Linked DNA regions of Homo sapiens. Each later gene encodes a partner of the first gene's protein in a complex. Each region holds a gene or a part of one and is shown on either strand. Other genes may lie near its edges.

Evidence for each region. Proteins that work in one complex are often made in the same cells at the same time.
Region 2: INTS9 (region 1) and INTS12 share a complex: the UniProt entries of both Homo sapiens proteins name them as parts of the integrator complex.
Region 3: INTS9 (region 1) and INTS1 share a complex: the UniProt entries of both Homo sapiens proteins name them as parts of the integrator complex.

What each region holds. Positions count from the first base shown.
Region 1 is NC_000008.11:28,767,489-28,775,837, forward strand, and holds the end of INTS9 (integrator complex subunit 9), read right to left. Parts: coding exon 8,271-8,349; intron 3,593-8,270; coding exon 3,494-3,592; intron 2,539-3,493; coding exon 2,401-2,538; intron 2,260-2,400; coding exon of another isoform or gene 2,119-2,259; exon of another isoform or gene 889-2,118; coding exon of another isoform or gene 835-888; coding exon 658-834; 3' UTR 173-657; downstream 1-172. UniProt on the Homo sapiens protein: Component of the integrator complex, a multiprotein complex that terminates RNA polymerase II (Pol II) transcription in the promoter-proximal region of genes.
Region 2 is NC_000004.12:105,681,621-105,685,532, reverse strand, and holds the end of INTS12 (integrator complex subunit 12), read left to right. Parts: intron 1-2,215; coding exon 2,216-2,800; 3' UTR 2,801-2,906; downstream 2,907-3,912. UniProt on the Homo sapiens protein: Component of the integrator complex, a multiprotein complex that terminates RNA polymerase II (Pol II) transcription in the promoter-proximal region of genes.
Region 3 is NC_000007.14:1,493,884-1,502,232, forward strand, and holds part of INTS1 (integrator complex subunit 1), read right to left. Parts: intron 6,484-8,349; coding exon 6,287-6,483; intron 6,139-6,286; coding exon 6,001-6,138; intron 5,750-6,000; coding exon 5,590-5,749; intron 5,478-5,589; coding exon 5,372-5,477; intron 5,279-5,371; coding exon 5,092-5,278; intron 4,970-5,091; coding exon 4,824-4,969; intron 4,671-4,823; coding exon 4,529-4,670; intron 3,432-4,528; coding exon 3,255-3,431; intron 2,382-3,254; coding exon 2,273-2,381; intron 1,671-2,272; coding exon 1,550-1,670; intron 1,011-1,549; coding exon 933-1,010; intron 29-932; coding exon 1-28. UniProt on the Homo sapiens protein: Component of the integrator complex, a multiprotein complex that terminates RNA polymerase II (Pol II) transcription in the promoter-proximal region of genes.

The DNA of each region.
Region 1 (8,349 bases):
AAGGAGAAACAGATCTGTGTTTTTATAAACAGTGCAAATTATATGATTTAACATACACATCAAAATTCAATTTCCTGTGGTGTTTTCTAAGTTCATGCTGTTCTGTATATTTTCATATTTTTTCAGCTACTAAATCAATATATAGATGGTAGGTTCAACAGAGGACAGCTAATTATATAAAAATAAGTGTTTATTAACAAATGGGCTCAGAGTAGAAAATGCAGACAGATGGGTTCACTTTACCATATTTTGGGATCATCATCTTATTGCGTACAGCACTGTAGGCAAGTAAACGAAACCAAAGGCTGGCTCCCCTGGCCGAGGCCTGGGACTGATGCAAGACAGCCAGCCAGTCACCTCCGCCTCCCATGAACCTCTTGGAAAACTTCTCCTGTCCCACTTCTGCCACCCTCCAGCTCCTTGAGAGAGCCAGAGTTGAGAAGAAAATGAGCCTGAAGTTGAAAGGGAAAGTTCTTGCCTGAAACAGTGCTGGGAATAAGTCCAGACCATTTCCCTCAAGAGCCACCTCTTCACTCCTTAAGCCAGAGGACACCACAAAGACACAGTTAATGGCCTCTCATGCCACTCCTCAGGTGGCTTGTGAGGGCAGCCAGTGAGGGACTGCAGGATTTCAGGGAAGTAGCTCAGATGGCCCACTCAGAACTTCTGTAAGAATTTGAGGACAAGGTCCCGCAGTCGCACTCTGAGCATCTCGTCATTGTCGCAGATGATATGGGTCGAGTCTTCTTCAATCTGGATGAGCGTCTCAGCCTCCTGGAGCAGGACGATATGGCCCTTGGCTGTGTCCTCCACCTTAATATCACTGAAGCCATGCTGCTCCAGAAGAAAAGAAAGAGGTGGGCTGGGCAGACTGCACATCTGTGAGATCTGTAAATGACACTTCACAGACTCGACTGAACTTTCTAGAAACTGACACGTCTCAACACAATTCTTCAGACTAGTCATAGGCCTATGATAGTGATAGTTTCTTATACTTGAAAAGAGACCCTAAACATGCAAAAGCTCATGCAAAACAACAGAATTTCCACAACCTGGCTAAGCTTTTGTGAGTTCTTTGAGGGCACGTCCAAGCACTGTGTTCAGGAGTCTGGGACGCTCAGCTGCTTGCACCATGCCGTTCCCTGGTGACAGCTCCCTCCTAAGTTTCAGCTGTCTGAGCTCCCAGGAAAATGCCAGGTGACACCAAGATACCCCTGTGGGACTTGGCAGAGCCCTCTCAAGAGTGAAGGAGAGAAGGCAGCAGTGCAAACTTCTCAGCTATTGCTAATGCTAAGGACAGAAATTCCTTACAAATCAGACGTGACATGGAAAGGAGGCATGTGCCTGAAACAGACACACAGCAGGTGAAGGGCCTCGGTGTGGGGAGGCCACCTGTACTTCATGGCTGCAGGCTCCCCTAGGGACTTGGACAGGTGCTTGCTCCTTCTGCAGAGAGGAGCCGGGGTGGAACACTGGGTCAGGACATAGGCTGGGCCAGGCAGAAGGTCCTCATCTTAAGTTTTTAAAAGTCCAGCTTGAGGCCCATTAACAGGGCCCAGGAGCCCTGCAAGGTCTTCAGGGAGGGTGGAAGAGAGCCGCAACCACCCAGCCAGAGCCTTTTTCCCTACGGGAAAATCAAAGACAGGTGGAGAAAACCAATCCTAGGAAAGGGAAAGCCTTTAAGATTTGAAAGTCGGCAACTGTGATATTTACATTGGATAGAAAGTTCATAGAAATCTCCTTCCTTGTAATGATTGTAATTTGTTGCAGTTCTTGCAAGCAGCAGCATGAACAGTATTACCTTTAGCCAATTCCTTCTTCCTATCAAAGATTCTATAATCCTAATAAAGTCATCTCTGAAGTCCTGTGACTGAAGCCAAAATTACAACCTTTAAGGTTAGATTTTTTTCTTTTAATCATAGTCAAGAAATCTCATCTCTGGGAGAAGCAGCCATCAGGGCTGCTGAGACAGAGGGGAAGGGCCAGTGTCCCCTCCCCCGACTGCCTCCTGCAAATCCTGACAGTCGACTGGAGACTTGGCTCCCCTCTGACAGCAAGGAGTCATCTGTGGAAGTGCAAGACTCTGGCAGGGCCGGGTCCCTCTTTGTCCTGGCCTCACTACCCTGCCCCACTCGTCACATGTGTGTGTGGAAGCAGCTTTTTCTTCAGTCTGGAGAGGCCTTCTGGTGACCTCGTGCTGGGAGGAAGGATGGGGCACTCCTCACTCTGCTTTCTTTCTCCTGGGTCTCCCAGCAGGACCTTAGACCAAACAGATGCCACAGGACAGTGGGGACTAAGTGACAAGCAGCAACATCCACTCCCTGCAGCCAGGGGGCCATAGTGAGCCAGGGAAAGGCTGCCACGTGTGGAGTTTTCACGGCACCAGCGAAACCAGCTCACCTTCTCCAGGGTCTGCACGAACTGCTCCACAGGGATGGAACCGCTCAACAAAGGCTTCAGGACTTTGCAGTCTGGTACGTCATCGCTCACCCGCTTTCTCTTCTTCCCGCTCGTGGGCTGGGCGGGCCGAGGAGGGGGCTAGAGCAGAAGGAAAGAGTGGCTTTCATGAGCTTCCTCTGAGCAGCAGGGGCCACCGCAGGCCACACTGAGAGCCTGAGACTATCCTGTCCTCACAGGCCACAGAGCCCCGGCCCGGTTTCCTCAGCCGGCACTCGGTTCAGGTTCCCTGGCTGCCGGGAGCCCCAGATCCACGCGCTCTAATGCTCAACTGTCCAGCCTACCAACACCTTATTCGCTAAGATCTCTGCCTTCTATCAAGATCCATTTTTAAATTTTCAGGTGGTTCACTTCAGTATCTGCTGAGTAAATTCTCCAGAATACACTGTGTCGTGCTGCAGGTACATCATGACCCCGTGGCTGGGCACACTGGCTGTGGGGTCAGACCAAAGGGGGAAACCCCACCTTTGCCACCATCTGGCCAAGGTTAGAGAAGCTGCCTACGAAATGATGACAGCAGTGAATTCTGACGGCTCAGTAAGACAAGGCGGGTCAAGGACCCAGCACAGGGTCTAATAGACTTTAAGTGGTAGCTAGGAGCAACTCTACATGTGGCATAAAGGTGACACAGTCCAGATCTGAAAGGAATTCTTAAGACACAGTGCCTGCCCTGGAGCTGAAGTGCCACCCACCTGTGTGTGGGTCATTGGTAGGACCAGGCTCTCAGGTAGCCACAGCCTCACGCAGGTGCCCTCCGGTTCCAGCCCCCAAGGGCAGGGCTGCACCTGCCACCCTGCACGTCTCCCCACAGCCCTGCCTCGCGTGGCAGCGCTCCCCAACAGAATGTGCCTGTGGCAGCCCTTGGGATGACGTGCGGCCTCATCTCTGGGCACAGCAGCCTCTCTGAGGCACATGGCCAGGGAAATAATTCTTCAACAAGAATTCACATGAAGCGCTATTTCAAATATAATCTGTTAGGTGGTCTGGTTTCTTGCTGGGGAGAGGGTCCCCTGCACTCCCACCCAGCACCCCCTACCTGAAGCAAGTGCTTGTTATCTTTGGTGTGCAGCACGGCCGAGACAGTTGCCAAGGAGATGCCAGGCTTGATCTCCATGGGCACCAGTGAATCTGCGAGCTGAAAGCAAAGGGCGCAGTTCAGGCTGGGGGCCTTTAATGATGACCATTACTCTTCCTTTAATCTGTATTTACATCACTGCAGTCTAAAAAGATGAAATAACTTTAAAGGTAAACAATTTTTTTTTTTTTGAGATGGAGTCTTGCTCTGTCGCCCAGGTGACACACCAAGTGCAGCCTTTCATTCATTCTGGCCTTTACTTCACCCTCATCCCCTCTCCAGGTGACCAGTGGCAGGAAGGACGGGGACAGCAGCATGGCGGTTGAGGGAGCTCTCTCTTCCTGAAAGTCTGACTTCTCCTGATGGTGGGAGCCACGGCTTTACCTGGGGGGTGGTATCTTTCCGACCACCTGCACCTGATGGGTGCCCTGCCGTGCAGCCTGACCTTATTAGGTGCTCTGTTGCTGGGTTTAGCTGCATGGTTTTTAAGACATGTAGACCCCTACCTAGCCAAGCCACCTTTATTTAAAAACAAAAACATGCAAGAGGCCATTATGTAAACATGAAGATCAATACCAAACGGGCAGAGGAAGCAGCTTAGGATACTTAAGCAGATTGGCAAGTGGTACGTGAGGCCTGTTTCATGAAATAAGAAAACGGCCTATGGCGAGCGTGAAGCGGCCCTTGCCGAGGAGCAGGGTGTGCGCCAGATCCCGTTCTTCACCTGAGGCCTCCTCCACACAGGCCCCTCCTCCCTGCACAAGGCTGGGGTGGGAGCTTTGGGGATGGCGTTCTGCGCTCTCCCTGGGCAGCCATGCACTATTTCCAAGACGACTCTGAAGGAGTCTTTTTTTTTTTGAGATGGGGCCTCACTCTGCTGCCCAGGCTGGAGTGTGGTGGTGTGATCATAGCTCATTGCAACCTCAACCTCCTGGGCTCAAGTGATGTTCCCTCCTCAGCCTCCCCAGTAGCTGGGACTACAGGCATGAACCACCACGCCTGGCTAATTTATTATTTTTTTGTAGATACGGGGGTCTTGCTGTGTTGCCCAGGCTGGTCTTGAACTCCTGGCATCAAGTGATCCTCCTGCCTTGGCCTCCCAAGGGCTGGGATTACAGGCCTGAGCCAATGTGCCTGGCCATAATGTCCATTTTAAAGGCAATTACTGTAGCAAGTTGGATTGAGACAGTTACCTCCATTAATGATCAAAGACGTACAGTTTGGCTGGGTGCGGTGGCTCACGCCTGTAATTCCAGCACTTTGGGAGGCCACGGTGGGCAGACTGGAGTTTGAGACCAGCCTGGCCAATATGGTGAAACCCCATCTCTACCAAAAATACAAAAATTAGCTAGGATTGGTGGCATGTGCCTATAATCCCAGCTACTCGAGAGCCTAGGGAGGAGAACTGCATGCACCCGGGAGGCAGAGGTTGCAGTGAGCCAAGACTGTGCCACTACACTCCAGCCTGGGCAACACGGCAAGACTCCGTCTCAAAAAAAGACATAGGGCCGGGCACGGTGGTTCACGCCTGTAATCCCAGGACTTGGGAGGCCGAGGTGGGTAGATCACAAGGTCAGGAGATCAAGACCATCCTGGCTAACACAGTGAAACCCTGTCTCTACTAAAAATACAATAAATTATCCAGGTGTGGTGGCAGGTGCCTGTAGTCCCAGATACTCGGGAGGCTGAGGCAGGAGAATGGCGTGAACTCAGGAGGTGGAGCTTGCAGTGAGCAGAGATCTCACCACTGCACTTCAGCCTGGGCAACACAGCGAGACTCCGTCTCAAAAAAAGAAAAAAAAAGACATACAATTTAAAATTAGATAACAGTGTATACTTATATAACTGGAAAAGACTTGAATAAAATTGGAAAATAACTAAAAAAGGACAACATTCAATATTAGCAAGGAGGCAGAAGTAAGAGCTGTCTCCAGCTCTGCTGTGGGAGTATAAACTGTCACACTCATTCTAGAGGACAAGCTGGCAATATATAGCCTCGAGCCAGAAAGGGATGTTCATAATCTTTGACCCAGAAATTCTAACTTCAGAAAATTTTCTTATGGAAATAAACATATATGGACAAAGATTTATGTAAAAGGATGCTCCTAAAAGTGTTATTTATAACACAGAAAAACCAGAAATGAAAATCTGTGAAAAAAGGGGCCAGGCGCAGTGGCTCACGCCTGTAATCCCAGCACTCTGGGAGGCCAAGGCGGGTGGATCACAAGGTCAGGAGATTGAGACCATCCTGGCTAACACGATGAAACCCCGTCTCTACTAAAAATACAAAAAAATTAGCTGGGCATGGTGGCGGGTGCCTGTGGTCCCAGCTACTAGGGAGGCTGAGGCAGGAGAATGGCATGAAGCTGGGAGGCGGAGCTTGCAGTGAGCCAAGATCGCGCCAATGCACTCCAGCTTGGGTGACAGAGCGAGACTCCGTCTCAAAAAAAAAAAAAAAAAATCTATGAAAAAAGGAACTGTTAAATTATGACAGACCATTATGCAACCATTAAAGCTGAAGCTTTTGAAATATCTTTTTTTTTTTTCTTGAGACGGAGTCTCGCTATGTTGCCCAAGCTGGAGTGCAGTGGCGCGATTTTGGCTCACTGCAACCTCAGCCTCCCGAGTAGCTGCGATTACAGGCGCCTGCCACCACGCCTGTGGCTAATTTTTGTTTTTTTATTAGAGACAAGGTTTCATCATGTTGGCCAGGCTGGTCTTGAACTCGTGACCTTAAGTGATTCACCCCCGCCTCAGCCTCCTGAAGTGCTGGGGTTTACAGGCATGAGCCACCATGCCCAGCTGAAATATATATTTTTTGAGACAGAGTCTCGCTCTGTCATCCACGTAGGAGTGCGGTGGCATGATCTTGGCTTACTGCAACCTCTGCCTCCCGGTTCAAGCAATTCTCTGCCACAGCCTCCAAGTAGCTGGGATTACAGGTGCGTGACACCACGCCCAGCTAATTTTTTTTAGTGGAGATGGGGTTTCACCACCTTGGCCAGGCTAGTCTTGAACTCCTGACCTCATTGTCCACCCGCCTCGGCCTCCCACAGTGCTAGGATTACAGGAGTGAGCTACCATGCCTGGCTGAAATATCTTAAATGATATAATGTACTTACTGATAGGTGAAAAAGACGACAGTGTATGAGGTGTGATTCCAGTAGGCACACACACAGTGAACAGACAAGGCAAATACATCAAAATCTTAACATTTATCCCTGGCACTGGGACTGATTTTTGCTTTTGTCTTTATCCCTTAGTTATGTTAACATATAATAGGTTTGTATTATTAAGTGAATATTTTTAAAATGTCTTAGTTTTAATTTCTCATATAGCAAACATCAATAGACATAACCCACATAAACAAAACCTCTTTGGAGTTCTATTTGTAAGGATGTCTGAGACCAAAAGGTTTAAGGAATGCTGGCTTAGAGAGTTGAAATCTAAACCAAGGCCGTCAATCCCAGCCCCTGTAAAATACCAGACAAAAACAATCCAGAGAAAGTGAAAAAATCATAACAAAATGATAAAAACATATTAAACATTAAACAACCATAAAGATGGCACCTGGTGGTCCCTAGCAGCCTCTCCAGGCTCATGGAAATGAGTCACATTCAGGAGCCAAGACCTCCAACCCAAGGTCTGGAGGCCATTTCTGAACCTCAGACTCCAAAAGAAGTTTGGGCACACTGGTTTTAACAATAAGTTTTTATATTTCTTTTTCCTGTCTGTTGAAAACACATTCAAGTTGCCTCAAGAGGTGAAAGGAAGCCAGAGGTAGCCTCCAACCATCCTCAACGCTGTCTTTCAGGAGAGGCCGCGTCCCTCTCTGTCTCCCTCTCAGAGGAGTGGCCCAAGCGCAGCATGCCACAGCTGTTCAACATGGACAGCATGCTTTGGCTCTTTCCCTGCTAAAACTGAAGCTAAGAGTTCACAGACCTATAAAATACTTAGACTTTGATAGACCAAAACCTGCAAGTATGCTCAAGAGGATATAAATAACCAAGTTTACAATCCTTATTTTTTGGTTCCTGTTATCTCCCCCATCTACCTCTGAATTCAGCAAACTCTTGACACTCACTCATAACTGAGGTCCAGGAAGGAAGAGAAAAGTCACCATCCTATGGTATTTAGGGACAGAGCGGGTGTCAGCATCTCCACTTCCCAGGGCTCTGACCCATGATGTGGCCCAGGGCTCACGCTGCTGAATGCTAGGTAAGGAGCAGTCCTGACTAACAGCTGTTATTTTATTAGTTGAAAAACAAGAAGGCCCTGAAAATCCCCCCTCTTCCCGGTTACTTGGTTAAGGGTCCATGTTCTTTGTTCATTCATACTTGGAGTCTCACTCTGTTGCCCAGGCTGGAGTGCAGTGGTGTGATCTCGGCTCACTGCAACCTCCACCTCCTGGTTCAAGCGATTCTCAGGCTTCAGCCTCACGAGTAGCTGGGATTACAGATGCGTGCCACCACACCTGGCTACTTTTTTTGTATTTTTAGTAGAGATGGGGTTTTGCCATATTGGCTGGGCTGGGTTGGCCAGGCTGGTCTCGAACTCCTGACCTCAAGTGATCCGCCCACCTTGGCCGCCCAAAGTGCTGGGATTATAGGCGTGAGCTACTGCGCGCAGCCTGGTTCATTTATACTTGACATAAATCCAAAAGAAGGCCACCCCTGCACGATCTCCAAGAGCCTCTGTGGAAAGCTCTAGTTTAACCCTAGGAAGGAGAACAGCTCACCTCTGGCATGATCTCGATCTTCTCGTACCGACGTTTGAAGGGCAGGGCGAGAACCTCAGCCCGCCGATAGGACATGGCG
Region 2 (3,912 bases), on another chromosome or scaffold:
AACTTATTGATAATTATATTTGGAGATTATTTTTCATTTTAATTTGCCAGGGAAGATTTGCTATCCAAGGCATATCCATTATTGATTTGTCATATAGGAACTTGGTGAATTGGAATAGAAGTAAGAATAACCAGTTTATTGAAAGTAATTAGAGTTGCTATATTCTGCATATAATCACTTTTTAGTAGATTTTTAGATTAATCTGTTACTACTAAAGTTTATTTTTAGAAAATTCAACATGAAATCATTTTATGGCAAACAAATTAAAGACTGCTGTCATATTTGTTTTGATTAAGAGGTTTTGTGTTTCTTTAATAAAAAATTCACTTTTTATAAAAGTGAATAAATTTATACTATAAAAAAATTGTTCCCATTCACATATAAAAAGCAAATGTCTTTTCTAACTTGCCCATCTAGCAAATAGGCAAGAAAATATTTATAGTTAAAAACTTGAGAAATTTGTTTTCTACACTGAAATAGTAAGAAATCACTTGGTCTCCATTGTTTGTGTTATATTACTTCTATGTGTCCTGATAGTATTATAAACCATCTGTCATCCTGTTGAAAAGCAATACTAAGCAACAGCAAGCCATTAAAATGAAATGCCAGACACATAGAACATGCTTTCTTGCTTGTACTTCCTAAGTGTTGGTCTTTTAATTACTAAAGGTGGGTTTTCTTTTGTGAAGTTTTTTGAAAGATCATTTAACCATATGGCAGACAGTTTTATGTTTAATAGCAAGAAAAGGAAAAAAAATTAGGTCTTTCATAACTGAAAATTAAAGGTTTACTTCTTGACTAACTTTTTCTCTCATTGCTGGTATATATTCCTCTAGGAATAAATGGTTTATGTAGTTTTTCTTCTCTGGATAACTTCATAAGATAGTTAATATGTTACTGTAAGAAAACTTCCTATCAATTTTCAGAGTATGTGGACAAATATCTGGATTCCTTCTCTTATAAATCGAATATCTCAGAACTCTATTTTTGTTACTTTTCACATTGATTAAAAATGTATGCATGCAGACAATATTGAAGGCTACCTTGATTTCAAGAGCTAAAAATGTTTTATCAACTATTTCAGAGTAAAGTTCTAAATTATAACTGGATATATTTTAGGTATAATAACTACCATTTTTTAAGTAGGATGTTATTTTGTAAAATTTTATCTTTTACCTATATGTGAATGTAATGCTTTTGTGAATCTTCTTAAGAGTATAAAGGTAGAAAAGGTGTCAATAAGAAGTTCAATTCAAAATTAATTTGAATACGTACATTTGTGCCTAATATGAAAGTGAAAAAATATATTCTTGTGTGAACAAGAGCAATATGTATTTATATAGTGGCATTGGTACCATTGTGAGCTTCTGATTAGCCAGGAAAGTTAATCAGAGAAGTTGAAGTGTTATACCCTTATGAAATATATCAGAGAATGAGATCAGTCCTACCCAAAATGTCACTGTGCAGCCTAATGAGGCAATTGATAAAATCCTTATTAAAGGAGCAGGAGACTCTTACATGATAGTTTAACCGGAATCATGGGCAAATTGTGAAACTAAAATCATGAGAACTTTTTAACACATCATAAAAATTGTACACTTCCAAGTAATTAACTTTGCATATATTTTGTACTCCTGTAACTGTTGCTCAAAATTTAGGAGGACATTTTTTTTTAATGGGTTTAGAATCTATACAGCTGTCTTCTTTCTCTCACACAGTCACTCAGTAAATAAATATTGACTGAATCTCTTCATCTTGGATATGTTCTCCTGAATATTCTGGGTATGGGCATTTTTGCTATTAAGAGTGAATTAAATTTTTGAAATGATCCCTAGTTATTTGGAGAAAAGTCTAAAAGAATTAGATGTTTAACTAAGGTCGATAATACTTTGTTGGGTAAAAACTATGTTAAAGCACTAAATCTGGTTTTCAGATATAGCTTAGAATTGAATCTAAAAGCAATTCCCAAAAAGGAATTTCATATATTTTCTTTTGGAATCATTAGAACAAGAATATGGTATCAAAAATTTTCTGCTTTGCAAATGATAATACCCACTAGATACAGATAAGTTTTGTTCTGTGTGGTTTTTCAGATCAGCTTCATAAGAACCTAATTTGGTGGTGTGATTTAAATTTCCCAATTCATAACTTGGGATGTTTATACAGGTACTGATTAAACTTGGCTCTAATGTAATTATTTACTTTATTTTTTTAGACATCCACAGTTATTTCAGGAAATTCTTCTAGTGCCAGCGTTTCCTCGTCAGTAACTAGTGGCTTAACTGGATGGGCAGCTTTTGCAGCCAAAACTTCCTCTGCTGGTCCTTCAACAGCAAAATTGAGTTCAACAACACAAAACAATACTGGGAAACCTGCTACTTCGTCAGCTAACCAGAAACCTGTGGGTTTGACTGGTCTGGCAACATCATCCAAAGGTGGAATAGGTTCCAAAATAGGTTCCAATAACAGCACTACGCCCACTGTACCTTTAAAACCACCTCCACCTCTAACCTTGGGTAAAACTGGCCTTAGTCGCTCAGTTAGTTGTGACAATGTCAGCAAAGTAGGTCTTCCTAGTCCAAGTAGTTTAGTTCCAGGAAGCAGCAGCCAACTAAGTGGGAATGGAAATAGTGGAACATCAGGACCTAGTGGAAGTACTACCAGCAAAACTACTTCAGAATCCAGCAGCTCTCCCTCAGCATCCCTTAAAGGCCCAACTTCACAAGAATCACAGCTCAATGCTATGAAGCGATTACAGATGGTCAAGAAGAAAGCTGCCCAAAAGAAACTCAAGAAGTAATGTGGCCAAGTAGGTTTTTGTATCATATTAGCCTAAAGATGAAAGGCTTATTATTATGATATAATCTGTAATACACTGTAATTTAATAAAAGTCTTCATAATCAAATTTCTATTGTTTCTTACCTTAAAATGCTAAATATTATATAACAAAACTTGGAAACTTTCATTTTAAATCAATCTTCAACATTTTTATTCTAATGATTTCCATAGTGTGTGAAAACAATGATTAGAATGACTGGTTCTCAATGAGATCTTCAGAAGATTGAAAGCATCTGTGAATTTAAGGAAAAAGAAATAGTTCATCTTCTAGCAAAGCCCCAAGAGTTGATCCTGATGAATGAGGTGCCTTATGTGGCGGCAGGGACGACCCAACATAGTTTTCTATTTTCCTCCCCGTATTCTGGGTGTTCATTTTCTGTGCTAGCCCCATTTCAACTGACTCTCCCTCTCCCTCCCAATTATTTCATCTTTTTCAAAATTATTTTTTCATTATTGATTTCTCATATCAATGGATTTTCCTAATTGATTTATCATACTTCATATTATATCTTTACCTTTTTTATCACCTCATTTCAATTATTTAAGGGTATATCTTTTTCCAATAAATTGTGAACTCTCCTGGTGCTTAATACAATATTTTTTCTCACATTGCTCACTTTTCCTACATTGCCAATGTAATACATGCACATAGTACGTAATAAATGTTGAATTTTGATTCATCTTGGTTATGCACATTCCTGATAAGTTTTGAAGAAAAATACCATTTCACAAAGGTCTTTGCAGATGGAAATATATGACTTGTTCACACACTGATGGCTTCTTCCTATACCATGAAAGAAAAGGCTATCTTACTTAGTGCTCAAAATGTTATAGCACTTTACCTAATTTTAGCTAACTTTGTATACAATAAGCTCCTATATAATGATTAATTCTTGAGATTGTTTTGTACATTGTTAACCCATTTATGCCAGAGGTTGCAAATTTTTTTGGTGAAAAATCAGACCTGATGATGACCTTGAACAGTAGGATATAAATAACTCTATAAGCCGAGCATTGCAATAATGGAACACTAGGCATAAGTGGGTTAAGTCAGAAAATGTGGAAGGTCTGCG
Region 3 (8,349 bases), on another chromosome or scaffold:
CACCTCGGAGCACAGACGCAGGAAGAAGCTGCGGGGTGGGGGAGGCATGACTCGGTGTGGGCTGCCCACACCTGCCAGACCTGAGGGGCCGAGGACAGGCCAGCTTCTCCCTCAGAGCCCACGGGCTGGTGGCAGAGGGCTGCTGCTGCCTCCCACGAGCCTATCCCCTCCAACCTGAGCCTCCCTTTGCAGGACAGGAGCCCTGGCTCTAAGTCTCGCCTGGACAAGGGGAGAAGGGGAGGCTACCCCCACCCCAAGGCCTTTGGGGATACACACACAGTCACTGGTTCCTACAACCACCACACGGAGACTCTGCCACCCCACAGAGGCCTCTAGATGGTTCTTGCCCTCAAGGAGCTGGGGGCCAGGAGACAGAGATAACCCCTACACCTCCAAAGCCTGACCGGAAGGCCGCAGTGAAGGTGAACAGAGCGCCCAGGGCACGAGGTGGGGGCAGGGTGAACTGGCAGGAGCCCCAGGCGGGGCTGGAGGGGAGTGTAGACCAAGAACCCACGGGGTCACCCATGGGGCTTGAAGGGGGACAGAGCTGTGAGGCCAGCCGGCTGGGGAAGGACAGTGTGCGGCTGTCTGGACAGAAGCAGGGGCAGACGGTGCATCTGAGACTGCGTGAAGGGTGGCGTGCCCGTGGACGCCCTGGAAGCAACTGGAAGGCGGGGGTCCGGGGGAGGCTGCGGCTGGGGCTTGGAGTCACGTGGACGCAGACGGCAGCTGAATCCCTACAGTGGCGCTGGGACGCCAGCATGGGAGTGGGAGAAGGGTGGCACCCAGGATTGTGGAGGAGGAGCAGGATGGTGCTGTGACCATGGGAACAGCCGCCCAACTCCCACTGGCCCTTCCTGCCGCAGCCGGCCCGGCACCCCGCAGCCCCGCCCAGCCCGGCACACAGGAGCCCCAGGCGGCAGCGCACTCACTTGCGGTCACTCTCGGGTGGCCAGTTGTCCCACTTGTAGTAGGTCTCCGGCTGCTCTGTGAACAGCACCTTGTGCAGGCTGGGCAGGCAGAGAAGAGCCCTCAGTCATGATGTGGGTGCTCAGGGACCAGCCCCGTTAGTTCCAGGGAAGGGACCCCGCTCCCACGGGCCCCAGCGCTCAGAGGCCGGGCTGCCTGGTGCCCAAGCTCAGCACCTCCTCACAGCACCACCAAAGAACCCAGGGACCACTCACGGGGCTGCCAGGCTGCACAGCGGCCGAACGGGGCTGCCGGGCTGGACAGCCCTTTACAAAATCGCTGCAGAGAAATGCAGCCCCAGCCTGGCAGCCCCACCCCAACCAAGGCAGAGGCTCCACGGGAGGCTCCAATGCACAGGGTGACCTGCCTGGAGCCTAACGGCTGCTGCTGTCCGCAGAGAGGGGACAGACTCCCGTGTGGGGGCCTGGCTTGTCCCGGCTTAGTGGGGTGTGGGGCAGGGGCTGTGCGGGGCCTGGCTTGTCCTGGCTCAGTGGGGTTTGGGGCAGGGGTTGTGCGGGGCCCCGGCTTGTCCCGGCTCAGTGGGGTGTGGGACAGGGGCTGTACAGGGCCCCAGCCGCACCAGTGCACGTAGTCCTTAGGGGCGAGCTTGCTGATGGAGGGGACCACAGTGTGGAGCCACCAGACGGCATCCCGCTGGATGGCGGCAATCTGGTTCTGGAATGAGCGGAGCACTTCCAGGTCTGAAACAGACACGCAGCTTAGTGGCCCATCCGAGCCATGGGCCATGAGGGGCTAAGGCACCCCTGGGGGTCCAACTCAATGCTGGCACTTGGGAGGGGGTAACTCAGGGCACCCCCAGCTTCTGGACGATTCCCAGCTGGAATAACACCCTGGGAGGCATGGAGTGACCCTGACGCGTGCGTGGGTGACTGGAATCCTCCTGTTCCGAGTGACTCGCTCCGGTCAATGGCTTAGAGGGCTTCTGCGGCCCAGCCTTCCTGTGAACCCATAATCAAACACCCGGACTGCCCCAAACACCACCTCCCCTCCCCACTCCCGCCCGTGGCTGGGGCCACCACGCCTGCAATGCCCCCATGCTGGGCCAGAACTGGAGCACACAAAGGACGCTCATGGGAACAGGGTCTGAGCCTGCAGCTGGGGTGAGGCCCGGATGGACAGGAACGGGGACGGCAGCTTCCAGGCTCCGTGTCCCCGAGTAGCCGTGCTGCGGGACCGCTCCTGCCGGGCGCTCAGGGGACAGTGCAGCCTCGGAGAGCCGCCAGCCACCAGCCTGGACCCGAGACCCCCACCAAGCAGGGCCAGGCCACCCCCACATCCTTACTCCTCTTTTCTCCTTTGTCCCAGGCGATGCCGGCCTCCTTCACCTGCGCTGTGATGCCCAGCATCATGGACACGGCCAGGACGTCGGTGATGTGCACCACGAAGCGCTCCTGCAGGTGCAGCACGGGGTCTGTATCCAGAAGGGACACCCGGGAGCCCCACTCCACACCCACGTGGGCGCGGCACGGGGTCTGTATCCAGAAGGGACACCCGGGAGCCCCACTCCACACCCACGTGGGCGCGGCACGGGGTCTGTATCCAGAAGGGACACCCGGGAGCCCCACTCCACACCCACGTGGGCGCGGCACGGGGTCTGTATCCAGAAGGGACACCCGGGAGCCCCACTCCACAAACACGTGGGTGCAGCACGCACACACTTGCACATGCGCACACATACACACACACAAGCAGGGATCCAGAGAGAGAGCCCAGGACCAGTTGGGAGAGGGGCCTGACAGGAGGGGCACCAGGGCCGGTGGCCCACAAGGTCCTAGTCTGGCCACAGGAGGGAGGTTCAGTCAACAGAGATCCACAAAGCCCCGTCCGCAAAACAGGCCACCCCGGCAGGCTGGCTGCGAGTTGGCTGCAGGGACCTGGCATCTCTGTGATCCACCCTCACTGTGCCTTCCAGCGCCAGCTCCCTCCACAGCCCTCGAAAAGTCTCCAACCCAGCCAGGCAGCCCGCAGCCCCACCCTGCCTCCCTGCTCCCGTGCTCCCCTTGCTGCCGGCAGCAATTCATCCCATCCAGCCTAGGGGTTGCCAGTTCCCCTGTGCTTGGTCAGCCCCTCATAGGTCCTCACACAGGACAGAGCCTATGCTACCCTCTGGGACGCGTCACCGCAAACAGCCTCACTCATCCCCGTACCCACGCTCAGCCAGAGCATCCGAAGGGGTGGAGTGTGCATGGGACCCAGGACGAGGGGGATGGCGGCGCGTGGAACCCGCAGTGAGGGAAAGGCGCCCCAGCGGCGAGGGCTGGCACCTTGAACTCCATCTCCAGGTACTGCGGCTCCTTGCGCTCCTGCATGAGCCCCAGGCAGAAGGCCTGGAAGTTGATCTCGTGCTTGGTCTGCTTGATGATCTCCCGCAGCAGGGCCCGCGAGGCCCGCAGGTAGTCGTCCTTGTTGGTCAGCAGGTCCTGGAACACCATGGCCAGGAACTGGGGCAGAGAGAGGCCGCGTGGGAGGCTGCCCGACAGTGCTGTCCCTGTCACAGGCCCCTTCCCGCAGCACCAACAGGTATGGCGCCCGAGGGCGCTGCAGTGGGTCTCAGACAGTGTGGGGTGCGGGGTGGCGGGCTCCTTGCTCTACTGGCTGCCAGCCCTTGGCGAGCAGGGATCACATCTGATTCCCCTCTCTGAGAACCGGCAGGTGGGGAGTCGGTCCTCGTGAAATGAGGAGGATTAATTAACGGAAGCTGGGGGTGCGGGACACCAGGCGGCAAAGCCATAGAAGCGCGTGTGCCATCTCAGCCCACCCGTGCGCCACGGGCTGAACGGAAACCAAAGGCCACCACCCAAGATCTGAAAGGATCTGAAAGGACGCACTCCTGTCTCAAAATGCCAGGCCGCGAAGACTGAACGCGGAGCTGAGAGCGGCTGTGCCTCCCTCGTGTTTCACACTCCATAGAGCCCACCGGGAGGCCTAATGCGCTGGTGGCGATGGGAGCATCTCCCGAGCCCGCTTCAAAGGAGACACGGAAATCCAAGGGTCCTACAGCCAGGGCTACAGGGACCCCTGCTTAACCGAGGGACCCAATGCACAGGAGGCGGGTCTGGGCCAGGCACAGGGGCTCATGCCTGTCATCCCAGCACTTTGGGAGGTTGAGGCAGGAGGATCGCTTGAGCCCAGGAGTTTGAGACCAGCCTGGGCCACATAATAAGACCCGGTCTCCACAAAATTTTTAAAAACTACCTTACTATCCAAAGGCAGGAATGAGCTTGAAAAATAAAAACAGAAGGCAACAGGTCTGGGTCTTAGCTCAGAAACCTGGGTGGCTTTTAAGACTCAATGTGGCTCCCTCCTAAATGGACAGAGTGTCAGTTTCTGAGAAAGACGCTGGGCGCTGTGGCTGCACCCACTCTAGAAACGGCTCAACCTCATGCCCACGTGAGTTTCAAAAGCTCCTTCCCGAGACCGAGGAGCATTCTCCCACGAAGCACTGCCAATCCACCGGCCTCCCCAGACGCCACGTGCCCCTCCAGCCCAGAGCCCCATATTCCGGCGTGGAGGGCAAGGCCAGGGACCCTGGGCCTACCTTGGGCGCCAGCTCTGAGCTGTGCTGCAGTGCGGTATAGAGGACCTGCATGTTGTTCGGGTTCCGGGCGCTGGAGAGCTCATTGAAGATCACCAACTTGATGGTGGTGCCCAGGTTGTCCTTGTGCGCGCTCAGCAGCTCCCTGGGTGAGGTGAGGGTACAGACCCTGTCCCCGCTACGCCTGTGCCCCCACTCCGCCTGTGCCCCCACTCCGCCCGCACCCCCGCTCCGCCCACACCCCCACCCACACCCCCACTCCACCCGCACCCCCGCTCTGCCCCGGCTCGCCACGCACCTGATGCACAGCATGAAGTGGTTGAGGAGGACCTTGGGCTTGAGGCGGATCTTGATCAGGTGTGAGATGACGTCCATGTCTTCGGAACCGTGCGTGTTGCAGTTCATGCAGACGGACATCAGCAGGTCCTGGGCCGGCCGGGTCAGCTGCGGGGCCGAGGAGGGAGCAGTGGGCTCACGGCCACCCCGGCAGGAAGACCACGCTGTGGGGCCACACAGAGCCTGCCCCCACCCCCTGCCCCGCCCACCCCCCCGGGGCGCCCCCGCACCTTGGGGTTCTGCAGCCACATCTCCAGCTTCTGCACCGCCAGCAGCCGCACCTCCTTATAGCCGCAGGTGGAGGTGAGGAGCCGCAGGAGGTTCCTGGAGACGTTGTCGATGGGCTGGCGCCGGTTCAGCTGGTCCCGCAGCATGTCCAGGACATACTCCTCCACGCTCTCCGCGAGCTCTTCGTACCTAGGCCAGAGGAGGGAGCGAGGAGGGAGGAAGGTGGCCCCGAGGCGCCCGCCCCCGCCGCCCCCAACTGGGACCGGGCAGGCACGCAGCTACCTGGGCATGAGCTGGCCCTCCTGCTCGGGGCTCAGCTTCTCCTCCGCGATCAGCAACTCCGTCTGGCTGTCCTCCTCCTCCGTGAGGGAGGGGTGTGGGCTGCTCCCTGCAAACCAAGGAGAGGGCTCCATGCAGCGCCTCCCACCCGCCCATCCTCCCACCCCTCCCCTGCCCTGGGGCTTGGACACCCGCCCTCTCTGGCTGGCCGTGTGTCTCACCTGCACCCAGGTCGCCCGCAACGCGGCCCGCCTCCCCCTGCAGCAGCACGCTCCTGGGGGGCATTCTGGTGTTGAAGGCCGTCTGGATGTTGTCCACAAACGTCTTACAGTGAGGGCTGTCCACCCAGATCCGCTCCCCCAGGGAGTCCTCGATGTACACCTGTGTGGCAGCCACACCCTCAGCCCCGAGCCCAGCCGGGCAGCAGCCAGGTTGGGGAACACCCGCCTGCTGCCCGGGGACTGGGTGCCCAGGCGGCCCTCTCCAGCTTCTGGGTGCAGCAGGGACCGTGCCATCACCACCAGGGCTGTCAGACACAGCCCTCTGGAGAGAACACACTTCTGCTTTTCTCTCGCCCCTGCCCCACCCCGTGGCGCTCTGCCATCTTCACCGTCCCGGGAGAGGACGCTCACCTTGACAAAGATCTCGGGCCAGTTCTCGTCCTCCTCGTAGGCGGCCATGAGGAGGTTACAGGCCAGCACAGACACCAGGCTGTTCCCCTTGGCCTTGAAGTTGATGGAGGCGTCCCGCCGCAGGAGGCTACACAGAGCCTGCCAGGGAGGGCGCATGTCACGTGGGAGCTTCGCTGGCCCCAGAGGCAAAGCTGGGGTGGGCCGGGAGGGACACTTAAGGGGGAGGTGAGGAGGGGAGCCAAGGGCCCCAGCGCTGCTCGCCTCCTGCCAGGGGCCCGGCTCAAACCTCAATGACGCCCTCAGTGGCGAAGATGTTGGGCTTGATCTTGGCCAGGTACATGAGGCTCAGGTAGAGGGTGCTGTCAGGCTTGGCGCGGGTGACCTTCAGCTGCTTCACGGCCCCGCACAGCACGCCCTCGATCCTGTCATCGTTGCCCTCCAGCTCGGCCGCCTCGATCTCATCCAGCAGCACCGTGGGCAGCACTGGCCGGGGCAGGCGGTACGGTCAGAACGGGGCCAGGGCAGGGTCACCCCAAAGCCTCGGGACACCGGGAAGACCACGAGGAACCCAGAGCTCTCAGGGTCGGCCCTGCCAGGGACCAGCGATCCACCCTCAGCAAAGTTCCCACAGCGGACAAGCACCCCACCAGATGGTCCCCTTAATACAACAGGCTGCCCCACAGGCCTCAGCACTAGCCCACCAGCCACTCCAGTCCTGGCTCCGCTGTGTCCCACACGACTACCCCAAAGGCTACAGACATTTCCCAGCAAGCCAGGCCACCTGCAGCTTTACTTTCCACTGAATCGTGGCTCCGTCTGGCGGCTTCTTTCTCACTGTGGACCGCAGCACAGTGGCCCTCTCTCCGCACCCACCCCAGCTCCAGTCTCCAGCATGCCCTTCTTCCCACTTTTCCTCCCTCTTTCCATGGGTGCTCGGCTCACAACCTTCCTCCAGACGAGTGCCTGACCCTCCCACATCCTCTGAGGAGCACCAGGGCCAGCACACACCTTTCCTATCGTCGTGTTTGCCACTGTTGGATCGGAGGTTTTCTCATTTTCATTCTGATTCTTCTCTGTCCCAACAGTTTTTTAGGACTGTGTTTTTAAATATCCACAAACGGCCAGGTGCAGTGGCTAGCACCTGTAATCCCACCACTTTGGGAGGCTGAGGCAGGTGGATCACCTGAGGTCAGGAAATCGAGACCAGCCTGGCCAATACAGTGAAACCCTGTCTCTACTAGAAATACACAAATTAGCCAGGCGTGGTGGTGCATGCCTGTAATCCCAGCTGCTTGGGAGGCTAAGGCAGGAGAATCATGTGAACCCGGGAGGCGGAGGCTGAAGTGAGCCGAGATCGTGCCACTGCATTCCAGCCTGGGGAACACAGCGAGACTCTGTCTCAAAAAAAAATAAATAAATAAATAAATAATAAATAATAAGTAAATACATATCCACACACATGTGGACAGAGGCATTGTGATCTACCTTAACTGCGCCCGGGACAGAGACTTGGAATAAATTTCCTGATGCCGAGACAAGCTGGGGGACAAGTGGGCTGCCAGCATGGAGGGACAGCCTGGGACATTTACCACAAATGGCTGGATGCAGCCATCTCTCTGTTTTGCTGAGAATAATACTATAAAGTGATCTACCACTCAGAATACGCTTTTCATAACCACGTCTCCTCTCATCTTCAAAACCTCCTTTCTACAGGAGGTAGTGCTAAAGATAAATAAAGCACCGAGCCGCCGGCGGCCGAGAGCCCGGGCCAGGATGAGGCCTGTGGTCTCTGTCTTCAATCCCCACCGGCACCAGCTGCCCAGGGACACGCCTCATGGGAGGTCTGAGGCTCGACCTCCTAAAGCAGTCCCCCAGCTGTGCCATCCTGGGCCGTTTGCCCCCAGGGCTCCCTGATGCCAACTGAGTCCAGCACAAACACTGCCCACAGCGCCCAGCCTCAGCTCTCATGAGCGTGTGCTGCCCAGGCCAGGCCAGGCCTCCATTCCCTGGGCACAGTCCATTCTCTGCTTGGCATCTCCCTTTCCTGCCTGCCCCGGTTTCATCGCCTGTGCTTCCAGGCCCAAGCCCATACTGCAACTCCCTGCCAGGCCTCCTCCCTTCCAGGGCCGTCGGGGACTCACTCACAGGCTTGCACTGCAGCAGCCTGGTCCCTCCCTGAGGGCAAGGCCACAGCCCACAAGTCCCCTGGGTCCTGTCTGGCACAAAACTCAGTAACCAGAGGTGGCGCGGCTTGAACAGACACCTCACTACCAAAGTCATCAGGACACTTGTTCTTTTTGACTCCTACAAAGAAATTACCCAAAAGAGATGCTCCCACAGAAACAAAAC